2 separate regions of the Homo sapiens genome follow, and region 2 is linked to region 1. The links come from fine-mapping of genetic effects on gene expression. Tissue or cell type: whole blood. Region 1 holds a variant in brackets; the other region holds the start of a gene. All regions are shown on one strand. Distances are between the middles of the regions.

Region 1 (8,175 bases):
GGATGGCCCATCTGCTGGGGTGGGTCTGGGGAAGGAGGTATGTGCCCTTCACTGGCCCCACGCCTGGCGCCCTCTTGCTCTCCCTATGAGAGCTCAGGGAGATACCTTCCCACGACAGGGACGGGGGTGTGATAGGGGCAACTGGGGCCTGGAACTGTCACAGGTCAATTCTTCACATGGGCAGGGTGGGGGCCAGGACAGGACTAGAGAGATGCTAAGAGGCTTCTTCTAGCAGCTCCTGCTGTTGAGTTAGGGGGATGCCCAGGGGCTCTCCTCTCCTTCCCCATACCCACCGCCAGCCCAGGCTTTGGGTGATCTAGGAGAGGGGAAGGCCGGGTCAGGAATCCAGTGCTTGGTCAAAGGACCAGCTGGGAATGGCAGGGAATCTCCTCACCACCCCAACTAGGTTCCGTTGGAGATAGTTCGTCCTCAGTCCCTACCCACCAAATCCCCCCAATCCCCGGCCCGGTCGGCTCTGGAAAGGCTCAGGCTGGGATGCCCCTGGAAGGAGAATCTTTTCGGAGGTGGTCAGGACGGCATGGGACATACTTACAAAGAAGATCAAGTTGAAGAGGAAGAGAAAGTATTTGGTGACTTTGATACAGGCTGAGCCCATCCCGCCAGTCCTGGAGCTTCCTGGAAGAGAGAAGGCAGGCAGGCCAGTGAGGGGATCAGCTCAGTCTGCCCTTGCAGCAACCCCAGGAGGTGGGTACTAACCCTGTCCCTGCCTTAGAGGATGCAGAGGCCCAGAGAGGTTAGACAACTAGCCCAAAGCCACACAGCTAGGAAATGAGGTCCCACGAGCAGTCTTGTGTGCCAGGCACTTGATGCTTGGCAGTTAGGATCCGGATCAGCCACTGCACTGGGGCTGGGGCTGGGGCTGGGGCTGGTGGGAGCAAAATGACAGAGGGAGACCCTCACCCCTCACCTCCATGACCCAGGCTCTGGAACTTGCACAGATGGACTCTGTTTGAAGTCAGGGGGCCGGGAAGTTAGTGATCCATTGACAGAGACCCAGAGGTGAGACCTGTGCTTGTTCCACAGACTCCCTCTGGGACTAGGGGCTGGGAGTTGTGGGGTCTGCCAAGGCGAGAAGGGGAATTTTGGCTTCTCAGAAAATAGGCTGAGCGTCCCAGCTTCTTATTACAAAGGGAATAAACATGCATTGTAGAACACCCAACAAATACAGAAAAACAGAAATCAAGCAAAATGTATCTCACTCCAGAGATTAAAAACTGTCATCGTTTTAGTAGCTATTATTCGTGTGTGTGTGTGTGTGTGTGTATAACAAATGGTTCTAATCAAAATTGGGCTCATTCTGTATAGTGTTTTCTAGCCTGTTTTTTTCATTCTACAATCTTCACTCTCTATATGTTGATAAAATGCTCTTCATAGTTTCACATGTTGCATAGGATTCCATCCTATTAGTACTTATTAACATTTGGGGGCTCACAGAGTCCCCCAAAAAATTCATGTGTAGTTAGCATTTTGTGATGCTAATAATTTCTGGGAGTTCATGGACCTCTGAAACCCATTCAGGAACCCCAGTGGCCCCAGGTTAAAGTCTCAGATGTGGCCATCCCATAAAAGCATTTAACTGATACTCTAAGATTGGACACACAGGTTGTTTCCAAGTTTTCACAGTCTCCCCGATGACACAAGTTGTGCTTCTGAAATGACACAAACCATGCTTGGGCATGCTGTGCCCCCTCCACTCCAAAAGACCCCAGGTGAGGGGAGGGCCCCGGGAGGAAGAGGGAAGCTGGAAGCTGACTGTTCTCACCCTGACTCAGAGGCCAGAAAATCCAGGAGTGCCAGCCGCCAGCCTTCAGACCCTTTGGGGCAAAGGGAGCCAGCACCGCCGGGCAGCTGGGGCCTGGACAGCTGGCCTGGGACAGCTGCATGGGCAGAGCTGGGCTGGGGGGGTGGAGGGGACGGCACCAGGCCCACTTGTGTTTCCCTGCCTTATGGAGGGGGAAGGGCAGGCCACAGAGCAAAGGGAAAGGAAAGCCGGAGGCCCGGGCTTCACTCCTTCTTCCTCCAGCACCACTTGAAAGTCTTCAATTTCCCCGGCTACACACAGGTTCCCTACTCTTTTCTGGACATGCTAACGATCAACAATCTTCCATCCTCCTTGTCAAGTGGGAGCTCAGCTTCCACTTCACACACCTCCGGTGATGGGGAAGGTGGCTAATGAGGAGGGTTCATGACCTCCCAAGGGGTCCAGTCCAGTTTTCTTTCCTCTAACAGCTTTGTTACAGGAAGTTTTCTTTAAGTGCCTTTTTAAAGGGCAGATTTGGGAGGTATAATATGAAGCAAAGCTGCCCAAGTTAGGAAAAAGCTGCCTGGGTGGTAGTGAGCTTCCCATCACAAGCGGCATGGAAGCAAAGTCTAAAAAAATACTCCTGGGGGATTTAAGTGCTATGTAGGGAGATTAGACTAAATGGCTCTTCCAGTCTAGGGGGCTCCAAGGCCTGGGTCTGAGAATTGCAGAGATGGCAGTGACTCGGGAGCCAGGGCAGTGCAACCTGGGCAACTCCCCAGACCTAGAGAGGAGAAAACATGACTTCCCCGTGCCCAGGAAGCCAGAGATCTTCAATGCCCAAACCCCGTCCTGGCCTAGGAAGGCCTCCTGGGAGTCTGCACTACATCAAGGATAGCTATTGTTTTTCCTCTCTCTCACCTCCCAGCACAGAGCCTGACATACCACAGGCACTTCACAGACTCCAGGAACTAAACAGCAAGAGAAGAGAGATTCTCTCCCAAAGCCAGGCGGCATCTGTTCTTCTTTCCTACCACGGATCTGCTGTGTTTCAGCCTGACCAGGTCTCCTCCCAGTAAACAATACGGGGCATGCCCCAAGAGACCAACCAGGTTCAGCGCCCAAGCAGCAGTAGCTAGGCCACCCCTTCACCAGAAGAACATCCACTAACTGCAGTCCGCCAACAAACTATGCGTCTTGGCAATGGGGCCATTGGCATCCTTGTGAAATTGCAGAAGTGTGGAAAGAGTTCTTTGGCAACCCTGAGTCAGATCCACGGTGTTGCAGTTTCAGAAAGTCCGGGAAAGGGGTTTCTACACTTTCCAGCTCACACATCCTCTGCTCAG[C/T]CTCACGGTGGGGCATTCAGCAAAGGGCAGCTTTTAGAAAAGAATAAGTATAGGCCGGGCACGGTATCTCATGCCTGTAATCCCAGCACTTTGGGAGGCCGAGACTGGCAGAAGACCTGAGGTCAGGAGTTCGAGACCAGCCTGGCCAACATGGTGAAACCCCATCTCTACTAAAAATACAAAATTAGCCAGGCGTGGGGGTGGGTGCCTGTAATCCCAGCTACTCAGGAGGCTGAGGCACAAGAATCGCTTGAACCCAGGAGGTGGAGGTTGCAGTGAGCTGAGATTGCGCCACTGCACTCCAGCCTGGGCAACAGAGACTTTGTCTCAAAAAAAATAAAAACAAAAATAAGAGTAAGTATGACGTCTGTAAGGAGAAGGAGTGGCCGCCAGGGAATAGCAACTACTACAAGTGGCCATGTTCAGACATCATCCCCCATCATCCTCACAACCAGCCCAGGAAGTGAGTATTCCTATCCCTGGCAGACCAGAGGCTCAGACAGGTTCAGTAACTTGCCCAAGTCACACAGGTCATAAGTGGCAGTGGTTTTCAGACCCCAAGATCTTTCTTCTGTGAAGTGGTCCCTCCTGGACAGTAGCCAGGATTATAAAGGGATCTTTGGGGACGGCTGGGTTTCCTTTGTCCAGTTAGGTGTGAGGACAAAATGACTGCTCAGAGGAGCTCTGCTCAGAGGGCAAGGAGGAGGCTGGGAAACCTTGTCACCAAGGCAGACGTGGCTGGGCTGGTATTCCCATGATATTCCAGACCCTGGGCAAGCTTGGCTGGTCCCTTGGTCACGCACACAGATTGTATCAGGCACTGGGCTAAGCTCTTCAGCCCTCTACATGCAAACAGAGGCACAGAGGGGAGAAGGAGCCTGCCCAAGGTCTCAAGTAGGAGGACTGGCAAGGACAGGGCCCAGGCTGCCTGGCCCCTTACACCACCCATGGGCTCCATCCCACACAGGAGGCAGCTGGGTGGGTCCAGAGGCTGAAATGAGAGCCAGGCAGCCCAGTCAAGTGGGACAGACCCAGAGGTATCTGGACATCACCCGAGGGAGGAGAAGGTGCTGATAACTGGAACCTGGGATGGGCAGCTCCCAGGCACACTGGCCAAGATCCAGAAGACAAAGTCTTCCTGCCCTGCAAGTGCAGATGCTTCTGCCTCAAACTGACAGGGAGCAGAGGGTGAAGAACATTCTCCACACTCAGCGGGAGATGGGCAATCCCACACAGGCAAGGAAGTCAGCTCAGCCTGAGGCGGGGACACACCCAGGTCACCCACGATGGGCTGTGGCATCAACTTCAAGGAATCCACAACCACCACCAAGCTCCAAGGAGCCCCCGAGGTTGAATTCAGAGTGCCAGGGGTTATGCCCGGCTCTGCCCTCCCATACTGAGAGCTGAGCCTCAGTCTGCCATCCATGAGACAGAAATAAGGGTTGGTGTGGAACCAGGGTTGGTAAACTGCAGCCTGCAGACCAAATCCAGCCCCCTGCCTGTTTTTTATACAGCTTCTGAGCTAAGAACAGATTTCATCTTTTTTTTTTTTTTTTTTTTGAGACAGAATCTCCCTCTGTTGCCCAGGCTGGAGGGCAGAGGCACAATCTTGGCTCACTGCAAGCTCCGCCTCCTGGGTTCACGCCATTCTCCTGCCTCAGCCTCCCAAGTAGCTGGGACTACAGGCGCCCGCCACCATGCCTGAATAATTTTGTTTTTGTATTTTTAGTAGAGACGGGTTTCACTGTGTTAGCCAGGATGGTCTCGATCTCCTGACCTCGTGATCCACCTGCCTCGGCCTCCTAAAGTGCTGGGATTACAGACGTGAGCCACTGTGCCCGGCCCAGATTTCATATTTTTAAATAGTTAAAAGAAAAATAAAAAGATTCTTTAATGCATGAAAATTACATGGAATCTAAATTTCTGCACACAGCCATGCCTACTGGTCTATCTGGCCCTTTACAGAAAAAGCCTGCTGGCCCCTGGTGTAGAGGATCAAATGGCGCACCCACAAGTGTCTGTAAGAGGCAGCAAGGGTCGCCAGGCGCGGTGGCTCACACCTGTAATCCCAGCACTTTGGGAGGCTGAGGCAGGCAGATCACGAGGTGAGGAGATCGAGACCATCCTGACTAATACGGTGAAACCCTGTCTCTACTAAAAATACAAAAAATTAGCCAGGCGTGGTGGCGGGCGCCTGTAGTCCCAGCTACTTGGGAGGCTGAGGCAGGAGAATGGTGTAAACCCAGGAGGTGGAACTTGCAGTGAGCCGAGATCGCGCCACTGCACTCCAGCCTGGGCGACAGAGCGAGACCCCGTCTCAAAAAAAACAAAACGAAGAGGCAGCAAGGGTCACGACTACCCTTAGCACGGGAACTTTGGAGAAAGAAAACAGCCAGCTGGGTGGCAGGAATTGATTGTGACTTAGAGAGAGAAGACACAGGATCCCTGAACAAGGGTTCAAATCCTGGCTTTGCCAATGTGTGGCCACAGAGGAGGGACTTCCTGGGCCTCATTCATCTCCTTGGGGAGTGGAACTCCCAACTGGACTCCCGTCCTAAAGAGGGAGTGAGGTCAGCGCCTGGTACAGTCAGGACTCAATGACCCGGAGCTGGGGCTGGTGTCTGTATCATCATCATCAGTTGGCTCAGTGCTTGCAGAAGCAGCAAGGGATGAGGATTTAATTTACAGATGATCTTAAGCCAAAAGAATGTCCTCCAATGTTATGCTTTCTTGTGTATACTTTTGGTAAACATTGGAGAGTCTGCCCAAGCTTTCCTGTGTTAAAAACACTGACAATTCAAGGGAATGAGATGCAAGCACATCTTAATGGGAAACTTCCAGAACAGTCACAGAGAGCTGTGAGCAGCAGGATGGAGGTACTGATCTTTGTTATGGTGGTGGTGGTTGTTTTGAGGCACTCTTGCTCTTGCTCTGTCACCCAGGCTGGAGTGCAGTGGCACAATCTTGGCTCATGGCAACCTCCGTCTCCTAGGGTCAAGTGATTCTCCTGCTTCAGCCTCCAGAGTAGCTGGGATTACAGGCATGTGCCATCATGCCCGGCTAACTTTTGTGTATTAATAGAGACAGGGTTTTGCCGTGTTGGCCAGGCTGGTCTTGAACTCTTAACCTCAGGTGATACACCTGCCTAGGCCTCCCAAAGTGCTGGGATTATAGGCGTGAGCCACCGTTCCTGGTGAGGTGCTGATCTTATGTTATACTTGACACCAGGTAAATTGACCATTTCTGAGCAACTACAATTTTAATTGACGAAATATATCATTTTATGCCAAATCAGTTTGTATAATAAAATTATTATATTAATATTTTGCCAACTTCTACTTATCATTTAACACTCACCTCCAAAATCACCACCTCCAGGAAACTTCCTACTCCAGCCAGCTTTTTCATCACTACCACTGCCACCCTCTGACCCCCAAGACACATGTTGGTTAGGGGCACTCCCTCTCTCCTTCCTTCCAGTGGCACTGGAGACTAGAGCAGCTCCCTGAACAGGCTCTGGCATCAGGCTGCCTTGGATTTGAATGCAGTTCTAATGCCTCCTAGCTGTGTGACCTTGGACAAGTGACTTAACCTCTCTGAGCCTCACTTTACTCATTGGTGAAATGACAAAGATAAAACTTATTTTGCAGGCTGGGTACGGTGGCTCAAGCCTGTAACCCCAGCACTTTGGGAGGTCGAGGCGGGCGGATCACGAGGTCAGGAGTTCGAGACCAGCCTGGCCAACATGGTGAAACCCCATCTCTATTAAAAATACAAAACTTAGCTGGGCATGGTGGCGGGTGCCTGCAGTCCCGGCTACTTGGGAGGCTGAGGAAGAGGAATTGCTTGAACCCAGGAGGTGGAGGTGGCAGTGAGCCAAGATCGCACCTCTGCACTCCAGCCTGGGTGACAGAGTGAGACTCCACCTAAAAAAAACAAAAAACAAAAAACAAAAAAAAAACCCCAAAATCCTACTTTGCAGATTTGTCCAGACATTAAATTAGGGCAAAATGCCTGCCACATGGTCTGCTGTGGATAGACGGCAGTTCCTATAACGCATGCTGTGCAGTCACTTTCTACTTACCTGTCCCTTTCCCCTGAGGACTGTGATACCTTGACGGGAAGACTGTTATTTACGAGAACAAGGCAGACTCCCAACAAATATTGCTGCATGAAAGACTGGGTGGATGCAGGGATGGAGGGGTAGGTAGGTGGATGGATGGATGGACAGACAGATGGAGGGACTGCCACAAAGAACACCAGGGCTTTCAAGTTCTCGGCCACCTGAAGGCAGTCTGAGTTCCACTGCCCCTGAGTCCGAAGAGACGGTTCTCAGGCCTCTTCTGTCCTTGCCCGCAGGGCAGGTTGGGGGTGTGTCAGGTGCTCAACCCTGGGCCAGCTCTGAATGCCAGGACCTGCTGCCGAGCCTCCCCAGGGACCAGCACTCCAGGACTCTAAATGCTGTAGGAGCCAGAGAAGGGGAAGAAGTGGTCCCTCCACCCACCTGGTGGCTCAGACTGAACACCTGAGGGCCATGCTCGGTCTCCACCTTCCTCGCCTCACAGCCCAAGTGTGTCCCCTCCAACCCACCACTCCTCTCAGCCCAGGACTTACCTTCCACGAAACCAGTGCAGCTGGTCACAGGGCCCACTTCTGCCTGTGCCCACGTGTCGTCCACACAGCAGCAGGGAGGACTCTGAAAAACACGACCCAGATCTCGTCACTCCTGTCTGTGACTCTCCAAAGGCAATGTGGCTGAAGACATACTCACTTTAAATCCAGGCTCCCCGTGTGGCCGGCGGGGCCCCGCCAGGGTTGCCATTCCTCTGTCCTCTTCCCCCCACAGGCTCATGTAGCCTCTTTCCTGTTGTCCTGGTATATCAGGCCCCAGGTCCTTATACCTACCTGAGGGCCTTTGCAAAAGGGTTTCTCTGCCAGAATTACTCTTTTCCCGTATTTTCCCACAAGCCTTGGCTCAGAAGGCTGACATCCCTCCTCCCAAAGGCCCTCCCTAAACACCCAATCTATTCAGAAGGCCTCAACTCCAGCTCCTCATTACAATCAACA
Region 2 (8,175 bases), 26 kb after region 1:
CTGGCCCCAGATGCTCCGAATCTGAAACAACACTCAGAACTTGGGGCTGCTCAGCCATGGGTTGAGGGAGGACTGTCTGGTCCTTAGGGGAACAGGTTTGGGTCCCCAGGGTGGAAGGGGATGGCCGGTGGGAGCTTCCAGGCTGTGGCTCTAAAGCGTGAGGCCTCAAGACAGAGGGGGCCGCCCCCACATAGCGGAAACTTCAGAGGAGCCCAGGGAAGCCAAAATCCTGCCCCAGTCCCCCTACTGTGGGAAACTTGTGCCCTGACTGCTCACCCACTGCCAGAGATAGCACATGGCTGACCTCTCACCCCTATCCTCCCTGGGCTGGGATGGGAGGGAGGGATCAGCAGGCACTTCTTCTAACCATCCCGCCCCCGACCCCCAAACTTACTGCTGGCTGGCACAGGCTCCCACCTTTCGGCCCAGATGCCTCCCCTTCATGGGCAAACCCCTCTGTAGCATTCATCACCCTCCCAGCAACCCCGCCACTCACCCAATCCAGCCACCTTCCTGAGACCCTGCTATGTACCAGACAGGATAGGGAGGAGAAAGAAGTGCAAATGTGCTGGAACAGTCCCCTCCCACCCCTCCAATGGTGCCTTTGCTCTCCCTGTGGCTGGTGTCTCTTCCTTCACTCCCAGTTGCAGACATCCCCAAAGCCACCCAGACCCCTTCTTCCCAGTCACTGCAGCCATTGGTTCATTATCCCTTGACCGCTGGATCCTCCACCCCAGCACATCTGGTACAGACTGACTTTCCTAAAGTGCTGCTCTGTTGTGTCACTCCTCTCCTCAGAAACCTTCAGTGGCTCCCACTTTCTGCAAATCAGATCCAAAGTTCTTATCCTGTCATTCAAGGCCCTCCGTAAGCTGATCCCACCTACTATTCCCACTGCATATCCCCACACGTTCCCAAACTTCAGCCAGAATGAGCAACCTAGAGGTTTCTCGAGAATTCTCAGGACAGGTTGACCTCCCTGCCTCTGCCTAGGCATTTTCCTCTCCTCAAGACACTATCTTCATTCTGGCTGCCGAAATCTTCCCAGTCTGTAAGGCCCTGAAGATCCCTCTAATCCTTTTTTCATTTATCTTCCATCAGAGTCCCTGGTATTCTTGTGTAAGCCCCTTCCCGGATGGTAAGCAACCTGAGGGTGCAGGCCTTATGTGGTCGCTTGTCATTCATCGAGCAGGAAGTGGGGGTGGTGGTGGGGAGGGCTTTCCATTAAGGCTCACTAGGTAGGCTCTGTTGAAATGAACGTCTCCTCCTCCCCACCTCAGGCACCACCTACCAGACCCTCTCCCTCCCCACCATACCAAACTCCAATTTATGCCACTTCAGTGCTTGAAGAGACTGTGGTCCCATGTTGATCCAAGCCAAACCAGGACCAGGAGCCCAGAGAGAAAGTCCTATTCAAGTCTCACCCCCTCCAGGAAGCCTCCTTACCCCCACCCCCTGCCCTGGCTTCTCAAGTGTCTCACTCTTCTGAACACCTCCCCCTGCCCTACATACACACACAGTCTCCTGCACACAGCGCAGCCGCCAGTCCGTCTCTGTCCCACAGCACTTTCCAGTTTGTTCCATACTGTACAGCTTATCTCCCAGAAGATGCAGGGAGCCAATATAATGCAGCACCTTCAGCGTCCTTCAGTGTCCAACCCTGCTTAGATATCGGGTGCCCACATTGCCCCTCGCCCCCATCCCAAGCCAAGTGTGCAATGGTATAGCTGGATTCCAGCCACCAGGGCAGAACAGACCCATGAAATCTCATCTGGTTATAAGCCCTGGGTGTGACTGATCCTCTCTACAGGGACATGGTAGGGATGGGGGAGCCCTCATTGTCAGCAACTCAGGCCTGGCTAGTTCACCTCTGTATCCTCTAGCTCTCTCTAGCATATAGTAGGTGCTCAGTAAACATTTTTAGACTTATTTAACTCAACACTTACCAACCTCAAGCAACATTACAGAAAACTCAGCCACTCTTTGTTCCAGATGACACAGTCCTCATCCCTCAAATAGAGTGATGTTGGTGGCAGGTGGCAATTTCTGGCTTTCACAAGGTCAGGAGGGGCTGTAGCCAACCCCATCTCTCCAAGAAAAAAAAAAGGCTCATTCCCCATAGGAAGCAAGCCCATCACCTGCCCACCCGCATCAAAGCAGCTGTCACAGAGGGAGGTCTCACTGGTTTCCTGGCACCTTGCTAAGTAGTGTATACACATTATTCTATTTAGTGCTTGCTCCTGCTATTGGATATTGTCATTATCCCCATTTTACAGGTGAGGAAACTGAAGTTTGGAGGGGGAATGGAATCCAAATCAGTTTGATCCCAAAGCCCAAGCCTTGACCACAGAACTATGCTGCCCCGCTACTGGGGCCCAGCACAGAGCACCCACCACCTCCAGGAACAGAACCCGTCAGCCAAGAAATTAACCCCGGGTATGCTTCAAGGGCCCCTGGGGCCCTGGGCTTGACCCTGGGCCCAAGGATTGGTGGGGTTTTCCCTTCTCTTCCCCACTCACCAGTGTAAGAACTGTTCCCCAGTTTCCAACCTCCTGCTCAGGCCAGCTCACCTGGAAAAGCCCCACTGAGTTTCCAACTTGAAGTCTTAGGGGGTCCGGCTCAGTTGAACTGTTAGAATTGGTGGGAAGCAGGTGAGGCGGGAAATGGAACCTCCCTGCTTTGGCCTCCTCTTCCCCAGGGTTGGTGGGTTCGAGCCCCAACCGAGGAAACAGTGCACTCTTTAAAGCAATTCGCTTCTCTCAGTCCCATTTTGCAGGGAGAGAAACTGCAGAGGGCAACGCGATGGGAACACCTGTGGCGACCTGCAGCCTGCTCTCACCTGCCAGCTCTCACCTTCCGGCGTTTTAAGTGAGAAAGGGCAACGGGAGCGTGGAATTCACCTGGTTCACTTCCTCCTGCTGGAACCCGGGAGGTCCAGAGCCAGGTAGAGGGACGGACCCAGGATCACGCAGCTGTGCACGGCCGAGTGTGAGAACTGGGGGTTCAGGACTGGTGGCTAAAGCTCCTTTTCACCCACCAGCTGCCCCGACCTGTCACTAGTTCCGAGGAAAGTTGTCCGAGCCGGACCGCAGAAGCGGGGGCTAAAACTAACTTTGCCTATGGTTGTCCGGCAGGCTACCCCGGCCCGCTGCCCCCTTGCTCACCTGCGGGTTCTGCTTTCTGCTCCGCGCTGCAGGCCCAGCGTCACCCGCTCGTGCCTCAGTCGGCGTCGGACTGCACAGCCCGGGGCTCAGTCACTCCTCGGCCCCCTCCCGGCTGCAGCCGGGGAACGCCGCGGACTCGGCAGGCCCCGCCCCCAGAAGACACGCCCCCTCCGCCGGCCCCGCCCCCGAGCCCTTTGGGAAGGCGGTGCGCTCCCGCCGGCCAGGCCCCGCCCACTATGGCCGTACCCCAACCAGCCTCGCCCCCGGGCCCAGCTGGAGCTGAGGCCCCGCCCCGCTACGGAGTCTCTCCTCTATCCCGGCAGCCCCGCCCCCAGGTTACACTGGGGATTAAGCCCGCCCCGCTCCAGCCCTGTCCACTCACGGCGCTGCCTAACGGTCCCGCCCAGCTCCCGCCTACCTCGTCCTCCCGGTCTCCTCCCGGGCCCTCCCAGCGCCCCCGCCTCCTTCACTTTCTCCTTCGAGCCCACCCCATCCCCCGGCCCTAGTAGGGTGAGGCCACGCCCCTCCCCGCACCAGCCTGGGCTCAGCGCCTTCCTAATCCTGCCCTGCCCTGCCCCTCTCATCTCGGGCGGGTAGCCCTGGGGCCCCCACGCTGGCATTCCAGGGCGGGTGTATCCGGGTGCCGCCGGGGAACGGCGTGGGAGCGGTTTGTGTCCTAAGTCGGGGCCTCTATCAGGAGGCGGCCTGGGCCCAGGAACTTTTTGAAAATACTGACTACCATTGATTGAATCCTTGCCAGGGGCCAGGCTCTATGCCAAGCGCTGAATACAGTTCTAGCCCTTGAATTCCCACAACTCATGGGTACTCTCGTTGCGCCTATTTTACTAATGCGCAGTTTAAGGCTCAGAGAAGGGAAGTCGAGGGCTCTGAATCTCATGGAGGCGGGCGTGAGCGGGATCCAGCCTCAGGTCCTGAGTCACAGGCTTGAGCTGCCCCAGCTTGCCTGGACTGGCCCCTGGGGAAGTAGCCCAGAACAACCAGTGCTGGGGCAGTGCCCAGCAGCTGCCTGAGGTGAGGGAGGAGGTGTGGGTTGATGAGAATAGTGGCAGGAGGGGCTGTGGGCCTAAGCCCTCAAAGCTGGCTTTCTCCCTGAAGAAAAAGTGGCCCAAAATTGAGGTGGGCTGCAAGAGCTCTCTAGGTGGCTGCGGTGCCCACCCTGCGTCCCAGCCCTCTGCCCTCCCAGGCTCCAGAGGACTAGCCTCAGGCAGATTACCTGGTTAATGACCAGGGGCATTCACCTGTGCAGCTGACAAAGCTCTTTCACTTCCATTATCACAATGTCCTCTCACAACACACCGTTGTGGGAGGGTATGATTATGAGCGCTTTGTACGAGTGGAGTAAGGGCGGGAGCTGGATCCCAGCCCAGCACTGTAGTTCTCACAGCGTGGTCCTTGAACCAGGAGCAACATCATCTGGGAACTTGTTAGGAGTGCGTATTTTGAAGCCCCATCCCAACTTACTGAATGGAAAACTGTGGGACAATTGGTTTTAATAAGGCCTCCAGGTGATTCTGAATCACATTCAAGCATGAACCACTGTTGAGCAAACTGTAAAGAAGTCAGGGTGGTCTGAGAATCACACAGACCTAGGTAGCTTCCTGGTTGCGTTTTAAACCCAGGACAAGGCAAGATACTTAACCTCTGGGATGAGCCCTTAAACAGGGAATAATAATAAAATGAGCCATAACAATCATACCGATCTTGATGGTAGCTGTTGAAGATTACATGTGACAGCATTCATAAAGTATTTGGCCCACCGCTTGAATGCCGTACATGCTCAGAAAATGTTCTCTTTTCAGCAAAAAGTCTCCTTCATAGCATTCCCACACCAAGTCAGAAAAGTGAGGCTGGAGAATCCTTTAAACCCAGCAGTGTGTCATACCCGCAGAGAGACACCCTCTATCCTGCAAGTGGTTAAGATCCTAACAAGCTCCTAGATGATGTGGATGCTGGTCCGGGGACCACACTTTGAGAACCACTGTGCCATTCTGTCTTGGGCTGGGTTTCAGATCCCTACCCTACCCAGCCCATGCAAAATGGGCATAAAATTCCTCCTATTCCACCCTACTCCACACCCCGCTCCCTCCGAGCTGGGGGTGTTTGTGATGGTGTATGGCAGATGCTCCTGACAGCAATAACTTGACTTAAGCATACCCTGAGAATGGTCCTGTATGGCAGATGCACCCCAATGTGTGTTTGGAGTTTTGAGCTAAGGAATCCGGGAATGACCAACCTGGAGATTCATTCCTTATCTGTGAGGAACATTTGAACCCCGGCCCATCCTGTGGAATGCAGGGTGTACAGGGGTTCAAAGCTCTTTGTTTGGGGCCAAATGAAGGTTATCAGGTGGGGGTTGTTAGGGGGAGGGTGCTAAGTGAGAGTGATGTATAAACTGCATGCTTTTTGTAAGCGGTTGTGGCTCTCCTGCCCAGCCTGCCATGGGACTGTACAGTTCTCCTGTCCAGCCCACTGCCACCGGCCGTCCCTGTGTGTAAGTTTCCCAATAAAACCCCATGTCCCAGTTGCTGGCTCTGGTCTCTCCTTCAGCCTCTTGAACCTAGTACCATCCCTACTGAAGTTAATAGGGCTCCAGCAGACAGATGGGAACTGGCCATTGGCAAAACAGCTGGATCCCCTCACTGTCCCCTCCCCCCATGAAGACATTCTCTCATATTAGTCCCATCTGCTATCCCTTGCTGCCCTGCCACTCCTGATTAGAGATAGAGGCAGCTGTGGTGACATTGAGAGCAGTCTTCAGGCAGCTTCTAGAATCTCTGCCATACTCCCTGTCATTGTCTGAGTCCCACAGAAGAGTGTCTCCCTGTAGGAGTGCAGGGCCTGGGCACTGGTCCTGTTATGCTGACCTGCCCGAACATGGAGAGCCCAAGTTAAGAGTGCAAATCAAGGACCAGATACCTTGTATCTAAACATTTAACTGACTGTGAAATAAAATGTGTATTCTCCTGCCTTGACAAATGTTCTTTCTAATGACCAGGAAGACCATGTTCAAATTTAGCATTCTTGGACTCTTTAGAATTTTATGCAAGAACATGGCAGTGCGGGAGGATAGCCTGGCCCTAGCCCTCAGCCCACCCACTCCACTTCTCTTCACACTCCATCTCTGTCTTGTGTCACAAGTGGCCTAGGACTCAGGCATGTGGATACTCCAGCCCACACACCCAAACTTTGCCCACACGCCTTGCCTACAGCCACCTCTTCGTCACCTCTCTATGAATGCACATTCCAGGGACAGGATGTACCCTCAGGAGGATGGACCTGGGCAGGCAGCTTTGTAAACCTTAAAACTGGCTGGGGGGCTGAGCACAGTGGCTCACACCTGAAATCCCAGCCCTTTGGGAGGCTGAGGCAGGAGGATTAAAGAGCTCAGGGGCTCAAGACCAGCCTGGGCAACAGGATGAAACCCTGTCTCTACAAAAACTACAAAAATTAGCTGGGTGTGGTGGCGTGTGCCTGTGGTCCCAGCTACTCGGGAGGCTGAGGTGGGAGGATCGCTTGAGCCAGGGAGGCGGAGGTTGCGGTAAGCTGAGATTGCACCACTGCACTCCAGCTGGGCAACAGAGCAAGACCCTGTCTCAAAAAACAAAACAAAACAAAACAAAACAAAACAAAACAAAACAAAAAAACTGGCTTGGGCTGGATAGGCAGTCTAGGTTTTTAAACACCCAAAGCATGATCAAGGTCAGGTGTGGGCTCTGGGTGGCCACAGGTGCCCTCTTGTCCAGGTCTATGGTGACATTGCCATTTGGCCTTGTCTCCCCAGCTTCTAGCACATGCCTGGAAGCTTAAGGGACAGTTGTTGAGTAGATGTGCATCTGAGTCTAACTTAGTCCATTTTCTGTTGCTATAACACAATACCATAGGCTGGGTAATCGATAAAAGAATTTTATTTTGTATAGTTCTGCAGCCTGGGAATTCCAAGGTTGAGAGGCTACATCTGGTGAAAGCCTTCTTACTGACTCATCACATGGTGAGAGGGCAAGGGCATGCCACCGCAGGTCTCTCTTCATCCTATTATAAAGCTACCAGTCCTCATCATGAGGGCCCCATCCTGATGACCTTATCTAATCCTCCCAAAGGCCCTACCCCCAAATACCATCAACATATGAATTTGGGGATTCAGTTTCCAATACATTCAAACCATAGCAGAGTCATTCACTGAAATATCACATTGGGTTGGCTCCCTCAGCATTGTCCCTATCCCCTCTCTTCCAGCAGAAGGCAAGCTTTGTCATGACTCACCTTGGGCATTTTGCCAGGCAGAAAGCGCAGACACTTCTAGTGAGACTCTACCTCTAGTCCATTCTAGAGGTGGAGCCAGGAGTTCTGGAGGTGGGAAAAGGGGTGAGAAGAACCACCCTAGAAAGCCTTGAGAGAAGATATCCATGGCCAACTTGGAGATGGGGAAGACGGTGGTGTGGCAAGACCTCAGAGAGGTATGGCTATAGGATTGCCAGGCTCTCAGAAGATTCCCCCACCCCAAAGGTGGAAGATGAACAGCTGAGCAGGAGACTTCAAAGAACTTGTAGGCAAGAACATGGGGGCCAGTTCCCTGTTAGTGTCTGGGCCTAGGTTAAGGCCCCAAGACTTTTGCACATCTCTGGTGGAGGAAGGTAAAGAGAATGAGTGCGGGTATCTGTTTCCTACTGTTATGTAACAAACCATCCCACTCATTTATTTTGCCCATAAATCTGCAGTTTGGGGTGGGCTCAGCAGCAACGGCTTATCTCTGCTCTACGCAATGTCAGGTGGTTCAATTGGAGGTTGGGGATCCATTTTCAAGATGGTGTACTCACACACCTAGCAAGTTGGCACTTGCTGCCAGCTGGGAGGTCAGCCAGAGCTGTGGAGGCCTTTGGTCCTCTCCATGAGGCTGCTCCACAGGTTGCTTGAGCTTCTTCATAATTTGGCTGCCGGTTTTGAAGAACAAAGACTCACTTAGAAGTGCATGGCATTTTGTGACCTAGCCTTA

The links. PIP is the estimated chance that this variant, and not a neighbour inherited with it, causes the effect.
Region 2: CD82 starts here. The variant in region 1 is fine-mapped to the expression of CD82 in whole blood (TOPMed, PIP above 0.99). The same link has a PIP of 0.9 or more in monocytes after R848.

The regions. Positions count from the first base shown.
Region 1 is chr11:44,587,104-44,595,278 of GRCh38, reverse strand. It overlaps CD82 (CD82 molecule), which reads right to left. Exons shown (of 10, transcript NM_002231.4): 2 at 7,723-7,804; 3 at 554-636. The coding sequence starts at 616. Among named protein-coding and RNA genes, the nearest start is that of CD82-AS1, 14 kb to the left of the region's middle. The variant C/T (reference allele first, on the strand shown) is at 3,109.
Region 2 is chr11:44,560,726-44,568,900 of GRCh38, reverse strand. It overlaps CD82 (CD82 molecule), which reads right to left and starts at 3,238. Exons shown (of 10, transcript NM_002231.4): 1 at 3,165-3,238. RefSeq lists enhancers at 2,150-2,219, 2,725-3,225, 6,065-6,564, 6,565-7,066 and a silencer at 3,140-3,739.